Regions from separate parts of the Homo sapiens genome. Here region 2 is linked to region 1. Evidence: fine-mapped expression QTL. Tissue or cell type: lung. Region 1 holds a variant in brackets; the other region holds the start of a gene. All regions are shown on one strand. Distances are between the middles of the regions. Region 1 overlaps AADACL2-AS1 (AADACL2 antisense RNA 1). Region 2 holds the start of AADAC (arylacetamide deacetylase).

Region 1 (8,662 bases):
CCCTCTACTTTGGGAGGCAGAGTCGGGAGGATCCCTTGAGCCCAGGAGTTCAAGACCAGCCTGGGAACATGGCAAAACCCTGGTCTCTACAGAAAATAGCAAAGTTAGCCTGGCATGGTGGCACACGCCTGTAGTCCCAGCCACTCCAGAGGCTGATACGGGAGAATCACCTGAGCCTGGGGAGGATAAGGCTGAGCCATAATTGCACTGCTGCACTCTAGCCAGGATGACAGAGTGAGACCCTGTCTCAAAACAAAAACAAACCCAGAAAACAAAAAATAAAATGAAAAACCCCCAAAACAAACAAAAAATAAATATTGGTAACTAATTATATTGGCTCCCAAAAATAAGAATTCTGTATTTGACAATTTTTGAATTCTGCTTTTTTTTTTTAGTGATCTTTACAAATTTGTGGGCTTTGAACTATTTGTTAGCAGAGACAGAGTTTGAACCCATGATTGTTATTAGTAGATGATCTTAGTAATTATTTGATTAAAATAAACACACATTAGAAGCTCAACAGATATTAGTCTTTCTACTTGCCATCTATTTCCTTCTGCTTTGAGTTATTACAATTGATTAGTCCAAATACTCTGAACCATCTTTACGTTTGGAGTATGTTCATTCTGCAACTGATCAGCAATCTATCTTTCTTTTGATAAATTGCTCTTAATAATGTTCAGTCCATTCATTAATAACTTCATTTTTGCATAGGTTCAATTATTTTGAAACCACAAGGGAGCGACTTTTGTGTTTGTGGAGTGTATTTCCTTGAAATGTTTAACATTCTTTGCTTCTGTATCATTGATGTCACGAATCCTTTTAATGTTTTGACTTTTCTTTTCTCTCGGAGTTTATGACATCTCTTCTGTTACATGCTGACAAAGAGCACTATAGATTAACATCATTTTGTTAGAAATTTTAGCAAGCTCTTCCTGGAGGTTTTCCTTCACAAACACTGTTACTGCTTGGGTTTAGACGTCAAATGCATTATCGTCTAAATCGCTCTACTTCTTTCAAGATGCTTATAGGAGTTGAGCACACAAACCTAATAGAGGAAAAGCAATTTTGTCTTTTTTTTTTTCAGTGTGCTGCTTTCTGCTGGTAGCTTCATTTAAAGCAAGTGAGCATCACATTTTTAAATCAATATTAAATGCTGAAAGGAATTTGAGAAACGTTTCTCAAATTTGGGCACTTGTGGACTATCAAGAGTACCTATGAGGACTACAAAGATTTTTCAATTTTAAAAATTCAAAACCTCGACTTTAGGTTTTGGTTTCATGGCTGTGCCCAGTTATAAAGTGGTCATCTAAATGATCCACAATTTGTGTATGTGTTTATATTACCATAATTATAAAAACAAAGCACAGTCATCCCTTCATAGTCATGAGTTATACATCTGTGGATTCAACCAATCCTGGATCAAAAATACATTTTTTTGAATCGCATCTGCACTAAACATATGCAGACATTTTTTCTTGTCATATTCCTTAAACAACATGGTATAATAACTATTTACATATCATTTACATTGGATGAGGTATTATAAGTAACCTAGAGCTTATTTAAAGTACAGTTATGTGCTACATATTGATGTTTTAGACCACATATACAATGGTGGCCCCATAACATTCTAATGAAGCTGAAAATTTTCTACTGTCTAGTGATATCACAGCCATTTTAACATTATAGTGCATGGCATTGCCTTTGCTATGTTTAAATATGTTTAGATACACTAATACAGTTGTATTCCAATTGCCTGTGGTATTTAGTACCCTAACATGCTGTACAGGTTTGCAGCCTAGAAGTGATAGGGCTGTACCATATAGCCTAGGTGTATAGTCGGCTATATCATCTAGGTTTGTGTAAGTACATTCTATGAAATTCACGCAACAAAAAAATTGCTTAACAACATTTCTCAGAATGTATCCCTATGGTTAAGTGATTCATGACTGAATAGAGGAGGATTTGCATATAATCTATAGAGGAGGATTTGCTTAGATTATATGCAAATACTATGCCATTTTATAACAGGAACTTGAGCATCAATAGATTTTGGTATTTGCAAATACTATGCCATTTTATAACAGGAACTTGAGCATCAATGGATTTTGGTATTTGTGAGAGGTCCTGGAATCAATTCCCTAGAGATACTGAGGGAAAACTGTACTTTAAAATTCTACTGGACCACTTGTGGACACATAAGCAGATCTGTAGACCTCAGTTCAAAAAAATATTGACCAGCTGATATAGTACCATTTCATAGGCGAGAAAACTAAATCCAAAGAGGCGTGGGAACCTTGTCCAGGATCACCAAAGAGTTACAGAGAGATGTGTTGGTAAGAAAATTGTGAGTGTGTGTGTATGTGTGTGTGTGTGCACACATGCGCGTGGGCCTGTATGAGCATGTAACTTAGTTTGTACCACCTGGTTTTACTTTGCTTTCTATCTTGAAACAATGTATTGAACTTTACTTAAAGGTTATGGTCATACTGAATCCTGGAACACTACTTGAGAAAATGGTATTATAATTAATCGAAATATTAGTGTTTATTCTTTGTCTTATTTTTTGTAAGAATCTACTCATCCAATTAAACATGGAAAGCCAAAAGTGTATTGTACTGCCAAAAATGAAAAAACAACATATGCCTGAATTCATGGAAGGACTGTGTGTAATGTAGAAGATAAAATGAAACATATGGAATATGTAATAAAAAACAAAATCAAGCATATTGATTATAGTTACCTAGTGATTGCCTATTTAAATACTAAAAATTTAAGAATTTAATTTAAAAGACATCAACAATATTTATCTATTAGTTATAAAATATGCCAGGAGATGGTTATCACAGGATACCTTTTAATCTACAAATGTTGAAATTTTAAGTTTAGGCAAATCAAGGAATGACAATGACATCGGCAATGAAGTTCAGATCTTCAAACTTGCAGTATCTCCATCGGAGCAATTTTCAATTACAAGAAGATAATGTAGTTAATGTGCCTCTTCGTCTCTCCAATAATAGTAATGCAGTTTATTTTTACAAAGAAGTCATAAATGCTTTCCATTCTATACATGGAACATTAAATAAATGCAAAAAAAACCCACCTCAGCTAGATTGTTTCAGATAGCATTTTTTGACAATTGCTTTATAGTTCCAATTTCTATGAGGCTTATATAGTAATTTATTTTCTTTTTCTTTTCTTTTGAGAGATGGAGCCTCCCTCTCTCAGCCCAGGCTGGAGCACAGTGGCATAATGATGGCAGTTCACTGAAACTTGAAACTCCTTGGCTCAAAGGATCCTGCCATCTCAGCCTGCTGAGAGGCTGGGACTATGGCACCATCCCTGGCTAATTGTTTTAGAGACAGACTCTCGCTATGTTGCCCAGGATGGGTAATTTCATTCTTAAAAAGAATTTTAGGAATTAAAGGAAATATCTTCTTTCAATTTATTTAGAGGTGTAAGTTTTGAGATATTTATTTATAATTTTAAATGCTTTTGTTTGATAAACTAAAGCAAGTTTAGACATTTTTCTAAACCACATTAAAGGAATTATTAAAACATGATTTTATTGGATATCTAACTTTATCACGTTAGCTTATGCTGGGTAACAGCTTTCTGGAGCCCACAAGGGGGCAGACTAAGAACGTATGAAAGAAAACAATCCTTACGCTGTAGTCACTAACTGGCGGAGTTCCGTTCCAACTGAATGCATTTGGCTTTATTTCCTTTTTACTGAATTTTATCTTATTTTCTTCTGACCGAAAGCAATTTCAGTTTCTTTGCACTGTATTGGAAAATTGAGCACTTAAAAATCTAAACTCATTTGACGATACGCATCTTCTCTCTTATTGTCTTCTAAGTGAAAACTGTACGGAAATCATACATGATTAAGCTGAAGAAGTAAATTGTAATAATTTCTAATCCATTATTTTACATTAATTTTTAAATAATAGTTTGTTTGTTTGTTTGTTTATTTTGAGACAGAGTCTCGCTCTGTTGCCCAGGCTGAGGTGCAGTGGCGCAATCTCGGCGCAATCTCTGCTCAGTGCCACCTCCACCTCCTGGGTTCAAGTGATTCTCCTGCCTCAGCCTCCCGAGTAGTCTGGACTACAGGCGCGTTCCATCATGCCTGGCTAATTTTTTGTATTTTTAGTAGAGATAGGATTTCACCATGTTAGCCAGGATGGTCTCCATCTCCTGACCTCGTGATCCGCCCACCTCGGCTTCCCAAAGTGCTGAGA[T/G]TACAGGCATAATTTGCTTATTTTCAAAAGAAAACGACAAAATAACTGTCATTTTTAATATCAATTGTATAAATCAGTATTTTATTAATAAACGGTTCTGGCATTCTTGCATTTCCTTTAGTTTTATTGTGTCCTTGTAATTCGATTGCAACCTTTAAACATCTCTCTGTATTTACCAGAAGATTATTTGATTAGTTAATAAAATATTTTCTAACAGGAGCTGTTTTTGGCAGGGAGGTATTATTTTTATCTTTGCTCATATATTTCACACTGGTAATCATGTGTAACAATTTTGAGACTAAACTATTGAAAGTCATTCTTTAGCAAATAAAGTAAAATCTCTTTTTAATTGATTCTTAATCATTAAAATAATTTTCAAAATATTTTCAAGGAATATGTCCAACTTCGATTCACTGTAAATAAATGAGATTTAGCTAATATACTAATGCATGTTACTTCTAATTTAATTAGATTAAAAATAGAATTCATCTAACAGTCTATATACTTAAATATATTCAAGCAAAGTGTTTTACTTAAATTAGTATAAAGTATGAAGTTTCTTATTTCCTAAGCCAATCTTCAATTCCAAATTACTGATTGAGTTCTAGCTCATGTATATAACTTCTCGTATACTCCAGGGAGCCACAGTTTAATCTTATTGACAATTTCTTTGTTTGAGATTTTATGTATATGTGTATACCTATATATACACACACATACATATGTACATATATGCATATGTGTACACGCTATATGTTCATATTTGGTATTTAATTTATAGAATAAATATTTTAAAGGTTATAAAGTTGTGATTAGATCTCTAAATAGATACTATGTATCTTTACTTAAGGATAAAGCGTATGCAGGAGAAAAATTTTCCAAGATTTGAAATGGTCATAGCTGAAAGGCCAATTTACATGTAATCCTGTTAAATTGGTCCTCACCCTCAGAAAGTTAAGAAGCGTTTGAAAAAAGATGCATTCTCTAAACTTCGAGTATTTTACAGGCATAGAATTTTAAAGCTGACACATAGTGAACATTGCACTATTAGGATGAGCCACTTTTTAGGGAAGGGAGTTTAATCACCAGAGAGCATAATTCTGGGAACTCTTGAAGATCAGAAGACTGTAACTTTTAGCTTTAGTAATTTAGAGTTAAAAAGAACATGAAGTTTCTTTTTGGATGGCATGAACTAATACTGGTATGCCTGGTTCATCCAGAAGCAGTTAGAACATGTCTTTCCAGGTCTCGGAAGTAGAAGGGACTGCAGGTTTGCTGAGTCATAACACCATATGGCATAATAGCAGGGCTCCTTGAAGAGCGAGTCACCTCGTGAAGACTTTGTGGGAGGTCGAAACCTTTGGAGAATCTGAAGGCTCAGCTTGAAAGGGAAGAGTGACATTGTGTCATCAAGAGATAAATGAAGAGTATGTTTGATAAAGAGTTCAGCTGACTGGTGTTTTACTTTACTTGTAAGAAAGAGGGCTCACTCAGATACAACCTCCAAATGAAGTCAATGGATGTTCACTAAGAAAAAACAGCTCTAGAATGAAACACTCAGCCTTCTTTTGCAGGCTTGTAGTCTTTTTCAGCACTTTAAAAGTACTGACAACGGTGCCTCTTGTTTTAAAGAAATTGGCAAATGAGAGAGAAGCCTCCTCTCAGCCTCCTCTTGATTTTTTATAAGAGACTTCAGTTTTAAAGAATCTTGGACTTTCCAAAATGGGCTATTTTTAATTTTATAACAATGCTCAAGCCTAGGGAGAGGAGGAGCTAAGAATTTTTGAAATGCCATTGGAAATAATTCCAGCCCTAATTAATCTCTTTTTGGCATCAAGAGAAAGAAATTGTGAATATTTATTCTAAGAGAATAATTTAAAGTACTGGTACCAAGATTAGACCCCGTTTAACAATAATATAATATAAAATAAACTTGAAAAACTCCGGGAAAGCTATGAAAAGTTTATTTTATTTTATTTTTTAATTTAATTTTATTTATTTTCAATACTGCTCCTCCTGTAAATGAAAAATTTTAAAGGCTAGAAGGCTAGACATAAGTTACATGAAACAATCAACAAGGTTTAGTGATTTTTTGGCATTTGGTAACAACCAGCAGCTGTGGTTTTTTTGAGGTTAAAATGGTCACCAGCCACAGCTGTGTGCTTTTTTTCCCACTGCTTCCTTTTGACGGGTTGCTGGGCAGATATTCCTCAGGTCCAGGTTAAAGAGCTCAGAGCACAGAGGAAATCAAAATCTTCTCCTGGATCCTGCGTGTCATGCCCCCTCTGGCACCTGGTGAGTTTCTAAATGCCTGAGCACCTTTTTGGTTTACTGGGTATTTGTGCAGCTCAAATTCCCTCCTGCCGCTCCCCAACACATACACTTAGGGCCAAAGCAACATACCAATTTGCAGTGATTCATTGCAGAATGTTAAATGCTTTTTCCACTATTGAGGTACATCAGAAGTGGTATTGATTTGTTTATATGGTAAAGAAACTAAGCATAATTAACTCTTGATTATCCACGTTGCACACTATTAACAACAGAGCTGTGGATCTTTGCGGCAGTCTCAGGAATCTTGAGATTTTCCTGAGGTTACCTAGTTAGTGGTTTTATACTTAATCTGGTATTTGTATGATTCAGATTCCCTTGTTTTCCTACCACCCTTTCTAAGAAAGCAAAAAGTAGTCTCCAAAATCCTTAAGCAATTGATGGCAAAGCCTTTGAAACTGGCCTATGGGGGTTGGCTTCCAGCTCTGCCACTTATTAGCCATGGGACCTTGGAAACCCATGTAAATTCAATTTCTTCCTTTTCCTTCTCTGCAAAATACCTATTAATATTGTTGTCAGCCGGGAGCGGTGGCTCACGCCTGTAATCCCAGCACTTGGGGAGGCTGAGGAGGGCGGATCACCTGAGGTCAGGAGTTCAAGACCAGCCTGGCCAACATGGCGAAACCCCGTCTCTACTAAAAAATACAAAAATTAGACGGGTGTGGTGGTGGGTGCCTGTGATCCCAGCTGCTCCAGAAGCGGAGGCAGGAGAATCTCTTGAACCCGGGAGGCGGAGGTTACAGTGAGCCGAGATCGCGCCACTGCACTCCAGCCTGGGCAACAGAGTGAGACTCCATCTCAAAAAAAAAAAAAAAAAAAAAAAAAAAAAAAAAATATATATATATATATATATATATATATGTATACTTATATATATATTTTATATATGTCAAAAAATATATGTATATTTTTATATATACTACATATATTGTTTACCTAATGAAATTGTGAAAACTAAATGTGTGCACACACGTATTTATATATTCATTTAGTTCTATGATATATACATATATACATATATGTATGTGTATATCTGTATCTATCTGTCTATCTATCTATCTATCTATCTATCTATCTATCTATCTGTAGGATTTTCTAAGATATATATTTCCTAAAGTAAAGTCTGATGAATATTATTGGTGGGTGATAAATATTACTACTGGGAAATTGAAACACTTAAATGGTGTTGGAACTCTGTACATGAAAAGAAATGTTCCTCACTCTCTAAGTCAGTGTTTCTTGATCTTCCTGTACATTGAAATCTTGTGAAGAGCTTCAAAAAAATACTGATGCTTAGGCCATACCTTCAGAGATTGAGACATAATAATAGCTCAAGGTGTGGCTTCAGCAAATGATGTTTTAAAACTCTCGTGTGATAGTAATATGAGACCACTGCCCTATGTCATAAAGGAATGACTTGACTTCACCCTTATATTTTAAGGTTGGGGAAGGAAAAAGGAAGTTACAGAAAGTAACTGCATGAGCCACAGGTTTTTAGGAGACTATCTGACACTTTTTCACATCTTATTTTTAGCATTGACAGAACCAATTACCCCCTTCCTCTTGAAATTCTTATGTCCCTGCAAATTCCTCAGAGACACTCCCCTAGTTTTTTTGCAGCTTCTCAGGCCACACAATCACTGCAGGTATAGCCAGGGCCTCATTCTGTTTCCATTTAGTGTCTCTGCAGTCCACCTACCACACTGTTCTCCTAAAGATCATATCACGTACTGCATCAATCAGAGCAACCTTCAGTGTATTTGGCTCAGCAGCCCAGGCTCCTCAGAACTTCACTTCTCCAGCCAGCTTCCCTGCCTTCTACTCTCTAGGAAAGATGTCAAAGGATGAAGTGAACTATGTGGTTTACTGCCTCCAGGATCTCCAAAGCATTGTTTCTCCTGTTGCAAATGCTTTCCCATAGCTATCCTCTTCACTGGGGACTCCTGTTTGTTCCTCCAAATTCAGGGCAAGTGTCAAGGTTTTCTTGGCAGTATGCTTCCTTCCTTCTTTCCAGTCTGAAGAACAAAATTCTTATTTCTATCAATTGAAGTGGTTAATATATTTATCTTTCTCTGTCACCAGATTGG
Region 2 (13,389 bases), 22 kb after region 1:
TATTTTGGATTTGAAAATGTATATATGTATTTAAAAACTTTTATAGTATACATATGTCTATACCCACATATATATACACACACAAACTTTAAGACTTCTATTAATGTCTTTTGATGAACATAATTTCTTAATTTTTTTTTTTTGCGGGGAGACAGAGTCTAGTTCTGTTGCCCAGGCTGGAGTCCAGTGGCACAATCTCGGCTCACCGCAACCTCCCACTCCCAGGTTCAAGCAATTCTCCTGCCTCAGCCTCCCGCGTAGCTGGGATTACAGGTGCCCACCACCACACCCGGCTAATTTTTGTATTTTTAGTAGAGATGGAGTTTCACCACGTTGGCCAGGCTGGTCTCAAACTCCTGATCTCATGATCCACCTGCCTCGGCCTCCCAAAGTGCTGGGATTACAGGCATGAGCCACTGCACCCAGCCTGAATTTTTAATATAACCATTTTACTGAGATATTCATAACCTATAAAATTAACACATTAAAAGTATGCCCTTAATTTTTAATATAACCATTTTACCGAGATATTCATAACCCATAAAATTAACACATTATAAGTATGCAATTCAGTGATTTTCAATATATTCAGAGTTGTGCAACCATTGCCACAATCAATTTTGGAAGATTTTCCTCATGCCAAAAGGAAATCCTATACCCATTAGTAGTCACTTCTCATTTCTCCCCATCCTCCAAACCCAATCATAGGCAACCATTAATCTACATTCTATCTCTATGCATTTGCCCTATTTTGGACATTTTATATAAATGGAATCACAAAACTTTCCATTTATGACTGGCTTGTTTCATCTAGCATAATATTTTCAAAATTTGTCCATACTGTAGTGGTCCTTTTATTAACAAATGAATAATTAACTGATAAATGGATGAATAAAATGTGGTATATTTACACAACTGAATATGTGTATAGATATGCCACATTTTATTTAAATATTCAATTGAATTTCAAATATTCAATTGTATAGATATACCACATTTTATTCATCCATTTATCAGTTAATGAACATTGGGTTGCTTCCACTTTTAAGGTTTATGAATACTGCTTCTGTGAACATACAAGTTTTTATATGGGCATGTTTTCATTTCTCTTGTGTATACACCTAGAAATGGAAATACTGGGTCAATATGGTAACTCTGTTTGAACTTTTAAGGAGCTGCCGAAGTGTTTATTCCCACCAGCAGTATAGAGGATTCTGATTTTTCCATGTCCCCACTAACGCTTGTTATTATCTTTTTAAATATATATATTATACCCATCCTAGTGGGTGTGAAGTGGTATTTCATTGTGGTTTTGATTTGCATTTCTCTAATGACTAATGATATTGAGCATCTTTTCATGTGCTTATTGGTCATTTTAATTTAAATATAACCAAAATTATCTATCTTTTAATATTGGAGTTCTTCATCTTTAATATAAATAAAATGAGATTATTTGAAGGCAAAGCATATATTTGCATAAATATTTTAAAGTATATTTTATCTTTCAAGTACATGAAAGATGCTTATTGGCCATTTTAATTTAAATATAACCAAAATTATCTATCTTTGAATACTGGAGTTCTTCATCTTTAATATAAATAAAATGAGAATATTTGAAGGCAAGGCATATATTTGCATAAATATTTTAAAGTATATTTTATCTTTCATGTACTAGTGATTTATTAGTCATTGCAATGAATTAAACACAGATGTCGGTCTTATACTATAATTTGACTTGCCATGTTTAAGAAAATTCTCTTTAAGTATAAAGTTGGAATGCAAAACAGCATAAGCTTGGATTTTCTAATTGCATTTTACAAAATATTATTCTAGCCACTATATTTATGAGTGATCACATACAACCAAATATTGATCAAGATTATGTCCCAACTTTATAATAATGATTTAACTTGACAAATGGTGATGAGTATGTTATTTTTTTAACTGTTCATTTACTCTCTGAAATTTCAATTTAAATATATACTGCTCTGGCATGAGTCTACCCAGCAATCCGCCCCTAATTTTGCTGTCCCTAAGTGCTCTTTCCATAGGTGGATTATTTATCTAACATAATTTTATATGAACTCATCTATTTTGTTTAATTTGATAATACATTTTTAATATACTTAGCGCAGTGTATAACACTTGTTGAGCCTAAACTATACGCTATATTTTAAATATTTAAAATTATATAGCCTACATTTTAGGCTCACCAAGTGCTATATACGCTGGACTCTGTTTCAAGGATGTTATCACTTACTCTTCACAGTGACCATCTGAGATGGAAATTATTTATGATGCACTTTTATAGATGATCCTGTGACTCCAGGGCACTCATTTTTAAAGACTGGGAATTAAGGGTTGAAAGGAAATACCGTCCAGGTAATTATATCCATAAATGATACAGTTTGAATTTATGTGAAAAAAATTTTTACTTTTTGCTGTTTCTTTTTGCCAAAATAACACGTGTACACACATATACAGATTTTTTTTTCTCAACTCTAATCAGGTTAAGCCTAGCACTCACTTGCAGTTGCCTACTTAGTGTCATCTGAGAAACATTTATTTTTGGCATGATCATGCATTGGCTGAGAAAGCTGAGAGAATCGGCTGAGCGCGGTGGCTCACGCCTGTAATCCCAGCACTTTGGGAAGCCAAGGAGGGTGGATCATCTGAGGTCAGGAGTTTAAGACACGCCTGACCAACATGGTGAAACCCCATCTCTACCGAAAATAAAAAAATTAGCCGGGTGTGGTGACTCGTGCCTGTAATCCCAGCTACTCGGGAGGCTGAGGTATGAGAATCACTTGAACCCGGGAGGAGGAGGTTGCAGGGAGCCGAGATCCTGCCACTGCACTCCAGCCTGGGTGACAGGGTGAGACTCCATCACAAAAAAAAAAAAAAAAAAAGAAAGCTGAGAAAATCTTGGCATGTCAGACATCTGGCCAGGAAACCAAACAGCACAGCTCTTACTTGGTTGATACGACGACAGCATCAAGTCTGTCTGCTGTCCATCTTGACAGCAAGTCATAACCACTTAGAGCTGAAATAAAAGGATAAAAGCAACATATTAGTAAAACAGACAAATGAAGACAAGGCTGTTTCCTTCACAAAAATCCTGCTGCACTTCTTTCACGTTCTGGCAGTTCTATTTTACCTTAAAATACGAGAGACAAATTTAACACTGTATTTATAAGAAGCCATCCATTCATGACTCAGTGGAATTCAAGTTTCCCAGTGAACCTCCTAATGCTCTTCCTCCCTTTTATCTTTTGTCTTGCACATTTTGCCATTGATCCTTCTGTGTCAGACTCATTCTCTAGATTAACCCAACTGTGTATACTGGAAGGAGGTACTGATTTGGCTCTGTTTTAGATGATGGGTATACAAAGATAAAAAGACAAGTCGCTAACTTGATCAATACGTTGTCAGATATGTGAGCCAAGGAGATATAGACAGAATTGTTGCAATATAGAAGGATCACCTAAGTCTGCATGGGACAATAGAAAAGGCACCTGAATATAAGTGGAATAGAACTAGGTCCCCTTAAACAAACACTGGAACTTACTGCTTGCATCTGTACTACTACTTTAAGAATGTATCTAGCTGAGGCCTCTCTTTGCCTCTTTTTCTCTTGTCTAAGAGGAAGACGTAATGCTCTTTTTTTCCATTTCCAACCTTCCTATCTATATCCAATTATTTTACTAGTGCTCTAAATCTTCTTCCCTTTCATTTCCTCTGGGATGTGTATCTATCAGTCAACACTCCCAGCCCATTACTTGGCTAACATATTTCTACTTATTGCCTTCATTTATTTCAGTCTACCAACTTGTTTATATTTCTCCTGCACAAAAATAAAAGAAAATTCTCCTACTTAACTCTCATTTCAATCTATAATTTTCTTGCTTATTTATTTCACAACTAAGTCCTTTTAAGGCCAGCAATTATTCTAACCATTTTATTTTCTTCCCTCTCACTTTTTGCTTGCTGTAATGTGTTTCTCTGTGAATATCCCATCATGTCAGCAAGTCTCTCCTCAACAATATTAACATAGAAAGTTCAACATCCAAGAGACATACTTCCATCCTACTTACTTGACATCTCTACACGATGCAGGACTTCTATTATTTCCTCTTTCTTGAGGTTCTCACCTTCTTCGGCTTTCTTTTCATTTTCTGACATTTTTGACCACCTCAGTGCTTTGCTGTCTGCTTATTCCTTCACCCAACAATTTTGTTTGCATTCCCCAGAAATCTGTTCTCACCCTCCCAGTCATCCTGTCAGAAATGAGGCACTCATTCAGATCTATTTTTTTAATCTTCTGTCTTTTTCTCCTCTAACTTCCCACATCAATGGACAAATTTGCTTAATTTCAAGCCTGTAACCTTTTCTTTTCAGGACTAATTTATTCTTCCTCTCTAGAGTTCAGAGTTCTTAACTTAGTAGGTCCAGTCCAATCTTCACTCCTCCAGTTAATCTATACTGTATTCATTGGAGGTAAACAGATGAATCTCAAGAGCCCTAGGACTCAGGTGGGTTAGGTGATTTTCTCACATAATTGGGACTTTTATCCCAGTGCTTCCACTTCTAAATGTTTTTGTCTTTCTGCTGTAATTCTATACATCAAGAAATATACAACCTTCACACCCAATCTTGATTACTCTTGCCAAATAAACTAAGTTTAGCCTAAAGCTGCCTCTTTGCATATTTTAAAGGTTTCTTGATACACAGTGAGTTGTAACTTAATTGGATGTGTAATCTACTCTTGTCCCAATCACTGAGTTTCAGCCAAAGGTAACCAACTTGTGGAACCAGTTTCAAATAAGGCAAACGCTGAGCTGTAACCAATCCGCCTATTTCTGTGCCTCACTTCTGTTTTCTGAATGTCACTTTCCTTTTTCTACCTATAACTCTTCTTCGACCAGGAGGCAGCGCTGGTGACTCTCTGAACCTATTCTGGTTCAGGAGGGTGCCTGATCCACAAGTAGTTCTTTGCTCAATTAAACTCTGTTAAATTTAATTTGTCTAAGGTTTTTCTTCTAACATTCTGGCCTATTATTTCCTACATTTATCACTTTAAAACACACTGTATTATTTACTTATTTATCGATCAAAGATTGTCTCCATTAGAATGTAAGATCCAAGAATACAGGAAGACAGGATTTTTTTCTTTTTTTTTTTTTTTGAGGCAGAGTCTTGCTCTGTTGCCCAGGCTGGAGTGCAACGGTGCAATCTTGGCTCACTGCGACCTCCGCCTCCTGGGTTCAAGTGATTATCCTGCCTCAGCCCCCCGAGTAGCTGGGATAATGTGTGCCCGCCACCACACCCGGCTAATTTTTGTATTGTTTTAGTAGATACAGGGTTTCACCATGTTGGCCAGGCTGGTCTCAAACTCCTGACCTCAAGTTATCCACCCGCCTTGGCCTCCCAAAGTGCTGGGATTACAGGCGTGAGGAAATTTTGTCAATTCAAAAATATATTCAAAGATATAAAAATATTACCAGACATATAGTAAATATGAGTAAATGGATGAAAACATTAAATGGTTCTGTAATATCAAGTGGAGAATGATAGAAATAACAAGGCTTTCTTAGAGTAATTGTGATAAATAGAAAAAAAAAGTTTCTTCTCACCTCTACCTGGGTTGATGAGGAAATGCATATGTGGAAAAGAGTGATATAAAGCTTCAGGGAAAAGTAAAACTTTGCCAGAACAAAGCACGAGAAGATAAAAGAGGCAGTAATGTCCATGCCGAAGGGCATGTGTACCTACTGAAGACTTAGTAAAATGTCTGCGAACTACCTCAGTGACAGAGATTTTTCAAAGCATTCACTTACCAGCACTTCCCACGCACCAGCCTCCACCATGGATGTAAAACAACCCCCTTCTTAGTGCTTCAGACTTTCTCTTTGGCACATATACCCGAACAAGAATGTTGTTGAATTTTGTCTCAGTCACAGTGACATTTTCATCTGAGGTTGGTGGGACTTCATCAAAGCTCCCGACAACCTTAAAGGAATCCATAAAATGGTGAAGTCCCAGGAGCTCCACAAATGTAGCCTAAAAATGAAATTCACAAACCTCCTGAAATTCAAGTATCAAATGGCAAAGAGATCTATGGACTTATAGGTAGACATTAACCCTTAATAAACTCAAATGGAATGAACTAAATTTTCATGCATGAATCCTGCTTGGTCCTTTTAAAAGAAACCAGAAATGCAAAGGTTATGCCTAGGGTGGTTCTTAAAAAAGAGGGAATACACTGTGAAGGAAATAAAAATATTTCATCCCAAAATATATCTCCTTGACATAATGCAAGGTAGCTTTTCAGAAGGGCTGGAAATACAAGATTAGCTGGAAAGCTTTTCTTTTGTGGAGGTGATTTGCATCTGTAGAGAAAATCTGCATTGATGGCTTCTGAGAGCCTTCATTTGTCCAGATCTAGGAAAAATCAACTGAGAATCTGACACCTTTAAAAGTCTGAAAGAAATTTTTACCATCTGTTCTCTCTGAGGGCTGCTACCTGTGAGGATCCATCTATATAACAAGACCACTTTTGCTAACCATGTCTCCTCTTCTCTCCTTCCCATAACCTGTCTTGCCACCATATCATTTTTTGGCCAAGCCACCATTCTTTCTGTAACCTCAAGATAGTAAAAAAAAAGTGTCAACCATCTGGCCATTTCTTTGAGATTTTATATTTTGTAAGTCTATTATGTATGCTAAAAATGTATATGCCTTTTTCTTCTATTAACCAGACCTGTCAGTTGACTTTCAGCAACTTTCAGAGGGCAAAGATGAAGTTTTATTGTGACCCCTGCTACTAATTTAGTTCCTATGTCACTAAAATGTGTCAGGCTCTCTACCAAGCTTTACGGTTTCAGAGATGAACCAGACAAATGCTCTTCTCAAGAATCTCAGAGTTAAGTGTGAAAGACAAATAAATGGTTACAAAACAATGTAAATACTATTACAGAGCTCTGTACAAAGTACTTTGGGAGCGAACAGCAGGTGATTACAAAAAGCTACTTGGGAGTAGAAACTGGAAAAGCAATTTTGTCTGAGGCTTGAAATAAATACCTTTTCCTAAGTCTTTTGCTAACCAAATAAGAAAAGGAAAAACCCTGGCAGGTCGAGGAACTGGTTTAGTTTAGAAATAGGGAGGTGCAGTGAGGTGTGGCTATGGAGCTGGTTGCACATGGGAGCTGGGAGTCAGGGTTGGGAGGGAAGGAATGAGTGGGAGAAAAAGGGAGGGCAGCTTGCCTGCCTGCAGCCCATCCTTTCACTGTAGAATGAGTCAGTGTTCTGAGCACTCTATTGTAGTCATCTCAGTAATATTAACAACTTGCTTATATGGGAGGAAGATAACATTTTCTTATCCATGTCAGATATGAGGAAAGTGAGCCCAGGAAGGTTAAATATGTCGTCCATGCCTACACAACTAGTAAATGATATTTACCAGGATTCTCAATCCAGTAGTTTGATTCTTGATGTAATGTTCATAACATAATCCTTTAATAAAGGGTATGAACACTCAAAGATTGCCAGACATTTCAGAGAAGCCAGCAAAACTAATCAGGAAAAAAGGGACAAACCAGGAGCATAAACGATCACAAAAAAGCAAGCAAACAAACAAGCAGATAATTCAGGAATAAGAAAGGGCATTAAAACAACTTTTAAAAGGTATATCGACTGAGAGCTCTGAAAATACATTACTTTCATAAATTGTGGACAGAATGTAAGTAAATGAATGAATTAATTAATTAAAAGGCTACCAGAGAAGAATATATATATAATTGCTTAAATAAATAAAAATTAATATAAAGACTCCAAGAAAAAAATCAAAGACCTCTCACATATTGTAGCACAGACAGCAAATATGAGGGAAAAAAATGTGTCCCTTTCTTAAAGCTCTTTAATAGCTCTGCATCACATACAGAATTAAATCAAAACTTACTACCAGTGCCCACAAAGCACTGTATGATATGGCTTCTAACCTCTCCAAACTAATTGCAACAATTTCCCCATTAAACCCAAATGTTTCATATGATTTCTTGGACTTGTCAATATTCTGTAGCTGGGGTGTTTTTACTTGTTGGTGTCTCTGCTGGAAAACATTTTTCTTAGCACTTAGAATGGTTGGTTTCTTTTCATTCTTCTGGTCCCTAAGTAGCTGTTTCCTCTTCAGAATGGCTTTTTCTCACCATGCATACAGTAGCCCACTCTTGCCTTCTGCCCAAATTACTCTCTTTTCTTCCATCTTACCTCCTTAAAGGTACTTCTCATGAACTAAAATCATTTATTCATTTAATTCTAATTTATTTTTTTCTCCACCACTAGAATGTCAACTGTGTGGGGATAGACTACTTGTTTGCCTAATAGGATTTGAGACAGTTGAATTGTTGAATAAATGCAAAATAAAAGATTAATCCAGGAGTTACAACATTTATCTGGTTTAAGTTCTGAAAAGAGATTTGTTTTAATGAAGATAATAAAATAACCAAAGAAGTAATAGTAAAATATCATCAAGGATCCAGAGAGAGCTACACCTTTTTAATTTGCCAGCATCCAAGCTGCCCAGTTGCCAGGACACCCAGGTCTCCCTCCCCCTCTCATTTGTGCATATTGTGCCGTCTCGTGGTTAACCCTAGGCATGTGCCAACCAGCCTGCCCATTGAATCTTTTCTTGAGAACTTATTTACGTGTCCTTAGTCTATATTCTGAATCCCAAAGATAAGTGCATAAAAATCTGTAACTAACACAGTGCTGCATAATCAGATGATCTCTAATTTGAGTATAAAATTTAAGGAACAAACCATACCTAAGATAAGAATTTCAAAGGAGAGCCACTATCGTGATATTAAAGCTACCTAAACAAAGTACTTTTTAGCAAAACCTATTCAAATGACTCCTTGCTTGCTGTTCTTGATATTTTTTTAACATGATTCCAATACATAAGACAGAAAACAAACAACATTTCTAAGTAACACATTGTCAAAGGCCACAGCAGTTATTTTAAAAGATGAATAAGTCAATAAATCAAAAGAATAGAATCTTGAAAAACTTAATTCTCTGGGTCAAATGGTGGTGTATGCACATCTGAATTCATAAAATTCCAAACTTACCAAATTTTGTATAGTTTTCAGATGTGCGTTTATCCACATCATTCTCCATGGCTCCTCAACGTTATCTGGGAGAGGCGTATAAATATAATATGCTATGAGGATCCCCACAATCAGAAGGTACAGCGATTTTCTTCCCATGGTGAACGTCCCGCTTCTTGGTCTCTAGAAACACAGAAAGTAAACCTACATGATATGCCTGAATAGTGTACTTTAATAAGCAGTGTGCTTCAGCTCCACCCAAAAGCTTTGAAAACAGAGTTGCTCACTTAGTTTAAGGGTTGGCATAATAAGGCCAAAATTTTATCTGTTATCCAGATACAGTCATGTTAAGTGCAACTTCAAGGTTTAATGAGTAATAGGAAACTAGGGCAAAGTTTGTCAATGATCATGCTGTTATCTGTATTCCAATAAACAGCATGTATTGAGTAATAACTCGGGAACAAATTCTTTAACTCTAACAAAATTATCCATAGAAAACATACAGAATTCAGAATCTTTGTTTTAAAATAGCTTATCATGGAAAAAACAAATTATATATATACACACACACATATATATACATATATATGTGTGTGTGTATATATATATATTTTTTGATACAGAATCTTCCTCTGTCACCCAGGCTGAGTCCATAAGAAGCGTTTTGTGTCAATAAGTAGTTTGTTTGAGGGTGTGTTAGGCAGTGGGATTTCCATGCATTGGGAAGTGGGGACGGGGTTTAGGCAAGTGTTCCACCCTGCGATTTCTATGCAGGGCCTGTGTCAGTTATTGCAGAATCCTGATGTTTCTCCCGTGACTTGGGTCTGACGGGGGTTGGAGATTTTGAGAGTTTGTGTGGGGTTTTTTTCTGTTATTGTTTGGATGCCTGTCGGGGGAGTGAGTGTTAGGGTACAGTTGCATAAGCTAGAGGAGAGGGTGCCTAGGGGCACTCCTTTGGAAAGTTCACGCTTTATGCATAGGGATGCTGGTTGACTGAGTTCTGAGTCTGGGGTAAGTGTTCCTAAGATAACCTTGTGTTCTGCAGTATGTGTGGTAAGATTGAGTTTGTAACTTTTGAGTGCATTTACTTCTCCAAAACTTTGGTAGCGGGGGTGGAGGGTCATATTGCTGAGAACCCAGTCTTTGAGGGGAGCTGGGAAGACATCTTTTGATACGGTTTCTGAGGGGTGTACCAGCAGGCCTTGGCCAGGGAGGGGTTAGTTTGACTGAGTATCATATGTGCCTGTGGAATGGTGCGCTGTAGGTGGAGCGGTAGCGAGAAGGAGGAGGGAAGAAGGAGTAAATAGACAGAGAGCAAGTGTAAAGGTAAAGAATTCGGCTTCATCTGGAGTGAATTCCTGTAAATCCCCTTGAAATATAAGATTGGTGATCCAATCAAGGAATGCTGTGAGGGTGGGATGTTCTGGGTAGGACCATGAAAGGTTTTCTGTGATGCAGTGAAGGAAGAGTGTGAAATGCCAGGATGGGCAAAGACAGGACATTTAGGAGGGGCCACTATCTGTTGGTGGTGGCTATTATACCTGCTATGAGGAGGATTATGAGGCAAGAGGTTACGAATATTGAGTTTTTTTTGTCTGAAATTCCACCCAGGAGGCAAGACAGTATATATTCCTATGGCAAAGAGTAGAGTAAGTAGGGTGATTCCTGCAAGGGCAGCGTAATGGATGATTTCCATTAATAAGGGTTTGGATACTTAATGGTAAGGGGTGATAACTTATCTGCTATGGTTCATGAGGGAAGAGTGGGGTCTTCAGGCATGGGCGTTAGGCGGAGTCGAATTGGTCTGAGAAGAGTGCTGGAGTATTTGCAGGGAACAGCTGGTTGGTTAGTTGGTGATGGGTCAGCTGCAGGTGCTCTTTTTAACCTGGAAAGATGGTACCAAGACTTGTGTTCTCAAAGTTTGGCTGCAGTGGAGGTAGCGAGAAGGACTTGGAAAGGGATTTCGCACTTTGGCATGAGACTTGTTGATTTTTAGGAAGACATATTCTCCTGGAAGGAGTGTTTGGTCAGTGGTGCCTTGGTGGGGTTTTGTGGGGGCCTGGTCAGCTTGTTCGCAGAGGAGATGATGGATGAGGGAGAGTGTTGGGAGGTATTCTAATTGATACTCAGGAGGGGGTCTGTTTTGTAAGAGGAAAGGGCATCCATACATTAAGTCGAATGGACTGAGGAAGGAGGGGGCCTTTGGACTGGCTCTGATATGAGCCAGTGCTATGGGTAAAATGGAGGTCTAAGGTTTTTTAACCTCAAGTGTGAGTTTGGTTAACTGAGTTTTGAGAATTCCATTTGCCCTTTGGACTTTTCCAGATGACTGGGGCTGGTATGGGATATGGAGGCACCACTGAACACCAAGGGATTGAGAGACTTGTTGGGTAATTTGGGAGATGAAGCTAGGCCCATTATCTGATTGTATGGAACAAGGGAGACCAAATCTAGGGATGATTTTTGTTATGAGAATTTGAGAGATTTTTCTGAAGGGGTAGGAAATGCTTCTACCCAACCTGAAAAAGTGTCTATGAGAGTAAGAAAATATTTAGTTTTTTTGACAGGAGGCATGTGGGTGAAGTCTACTTGCCAGTCCTCCCCTGGGAGTGTTCCTCTGAGCTGATGTGTAGGGATGAGGAGAGGGCGGAGGGCCCCTTGGGAGGAAGTAACAGAGCATATATGACAGTTTGAGGTTATGTCCTTTAGTGAGGTGAATAGATGGGGGGAGGAGAAATAAGGGTGAAGGAGTAGGTACAGGGGGCGCCCACTGATATGGAAGGATTGGTGAAGAGATGTTGGAATTTCCTTGGTTTGCTCTTGGGGAAGAATGAGCTTTTGGTTTTTGATTATCCAGTCCCCTTGAAGGGAGGCTCCTTGCTGTAGTAGTGAAGAGTTTTTGGTGGGAGAGTATCTGGGTTGGACTGCTGGGGTGACAAGGAGGATGGGGGCAGGGATAGGAGAAAGAGAGGCCTGTTTCGGTGCTCATCAGCCTATTTCCTCTTGAGATTTCATCTGAACCTGCTTACTGTCCTCGACAGTGTATGACTCCTGCTTCAGTTGGGAGGTGTGCAGCCTGAAGGAGTTGGTAAATAAGGGGGCCATTAGTAATGAGGGTTCCTTTGGCAGTAAGGAATTTTTTCTCTTACCAGATGGCGGCATGAGAATGAAGAATGTGGTAGGCATACTTGGAGTCTGTGTATATGTTGACCTGTTTGTCCTTGGAGAGGGTTAGGGCTCTTGTGAGAGCTGAGTTCTGCTTTCTGGGAGGAGGTTTCTGGGGGTAGGGGTTTAGCCTCAATTACATGGTTTAAGGTAACTACTGCATACCCAACAATTTTGGGAGAGCCGGGGGCTCTGGAAGAGGAGTCATCTATAAATAGTTGGTCATCTGGATTAGTGAGAGGCTTGGAGGAGATGTTAGGGAATTGTGGCTGCAAGTGATCCAGAATGTCAGTGCAAGAATGAGTAGGAGGGGAAGAGGATATGGGAAGTAGGGATGCCAGGTTGAGGGGGGCACTTTTGGCAAGGCTGAATTCAGGATTTTTGATAAAGAGGGCGTAGAGCGACTGAATTTGGGAAGGAGAGAGGGAGCTTAATGCCCAGGAGGAGAGGAGATCCTGTAAGTTGTGAGGGCTGTGAATGGTGGTGCTTTGGCCAAATGTTAGTTTTTTGCTTTCCAGAGGCAAAACGGCCACTGCTGATGATGCTTTAAGACAGGTTGGCTGCCCTTTGACAGTGTTGTCTAGTTGTTTACAGAGATATGCTACAGGGTCAAAGGAAGGAGGATTTCCCTTTTGTTGCCCTAAGACCCCAAGAGCTATTCCTTGATTTTTGGTGGTATAGAGAACAAAGGGTTGGGAGAGGTCGGGTAAGGACAGGGCAGGTGCAGTGATGAGAGCAGTTTGGAGTTTACAGAAACTGGGAAGTATGTTGTGTATGGGGCTTAGGGGTTCATTGAGGGGGCCTTTGGCTGCTTCGTAGAGGGGTTGAGCCAGGAGGGCAAAGTTGGGAATCCATATTCTAAAGAAACCTTCTAGTCTTAAGAAAGAGAGAATTTCATTTTTTGAGGAAGGCAGAGGCAAGCTGTTTATTAAGGTTGCTTGTGCTGGGGTCATGGCTTGGGCCCCAGGGGAGAGTTGGACTCCTAAGTATGTTACTGTTGGGGCAGATAGTTGGGCTTTGGAGGGGGAGACCCTATATCTTTTGCTAGAAAGAGAGTTTAGTAGGGTGATGGTGTGAGTTTGGAGTCCTCTAGGGAGGGGCTGCAAAGAAGGAGGTCATC

Evidence for each region. PIP is the estimated chance that this variant, and not a neighbour inherited with it, causes the effect.
Region 2: it holds the start of AADAC, and the variant in region 1 is fine-mapped to the expression of AADAC in lung (TOPMed, PIP above 0.99). The same link has a PIP of 0.9 or more in sun-exposed skin.

Annotation. Positions count from the first base shown.
Region 1 is chr3:151,834,156-151,842,817 of GRCh38, reverse strand. All of the region lies in intron 1 of AADACL2-AS1 (AADACL2 antisense RNA 1), which reads left to right. Among named protein-coding and RNA genes, the nearest start is that of AADAC, 24 kb to the right of the region's middle. The variant T/G (reference allele first, on the strand shown) is at 4,245.
Region 2 is chr3:151,810,037-151,823,425 of GRCh38, reverse strand. AADAC (arylacetamide deacetylase) reads right to left here and starts at 9,310. Exons shown (of 5, transcript NM_001086.3): 1 at 9,126-9,310; 2 at 5,838-6,060; 3 at 2,974-3,043. The coding sequence starts at 9,263. The region is part of intron 1 of AADACL2-AS1 (AADACL2 antisense RNA 1); the gene reads left to right.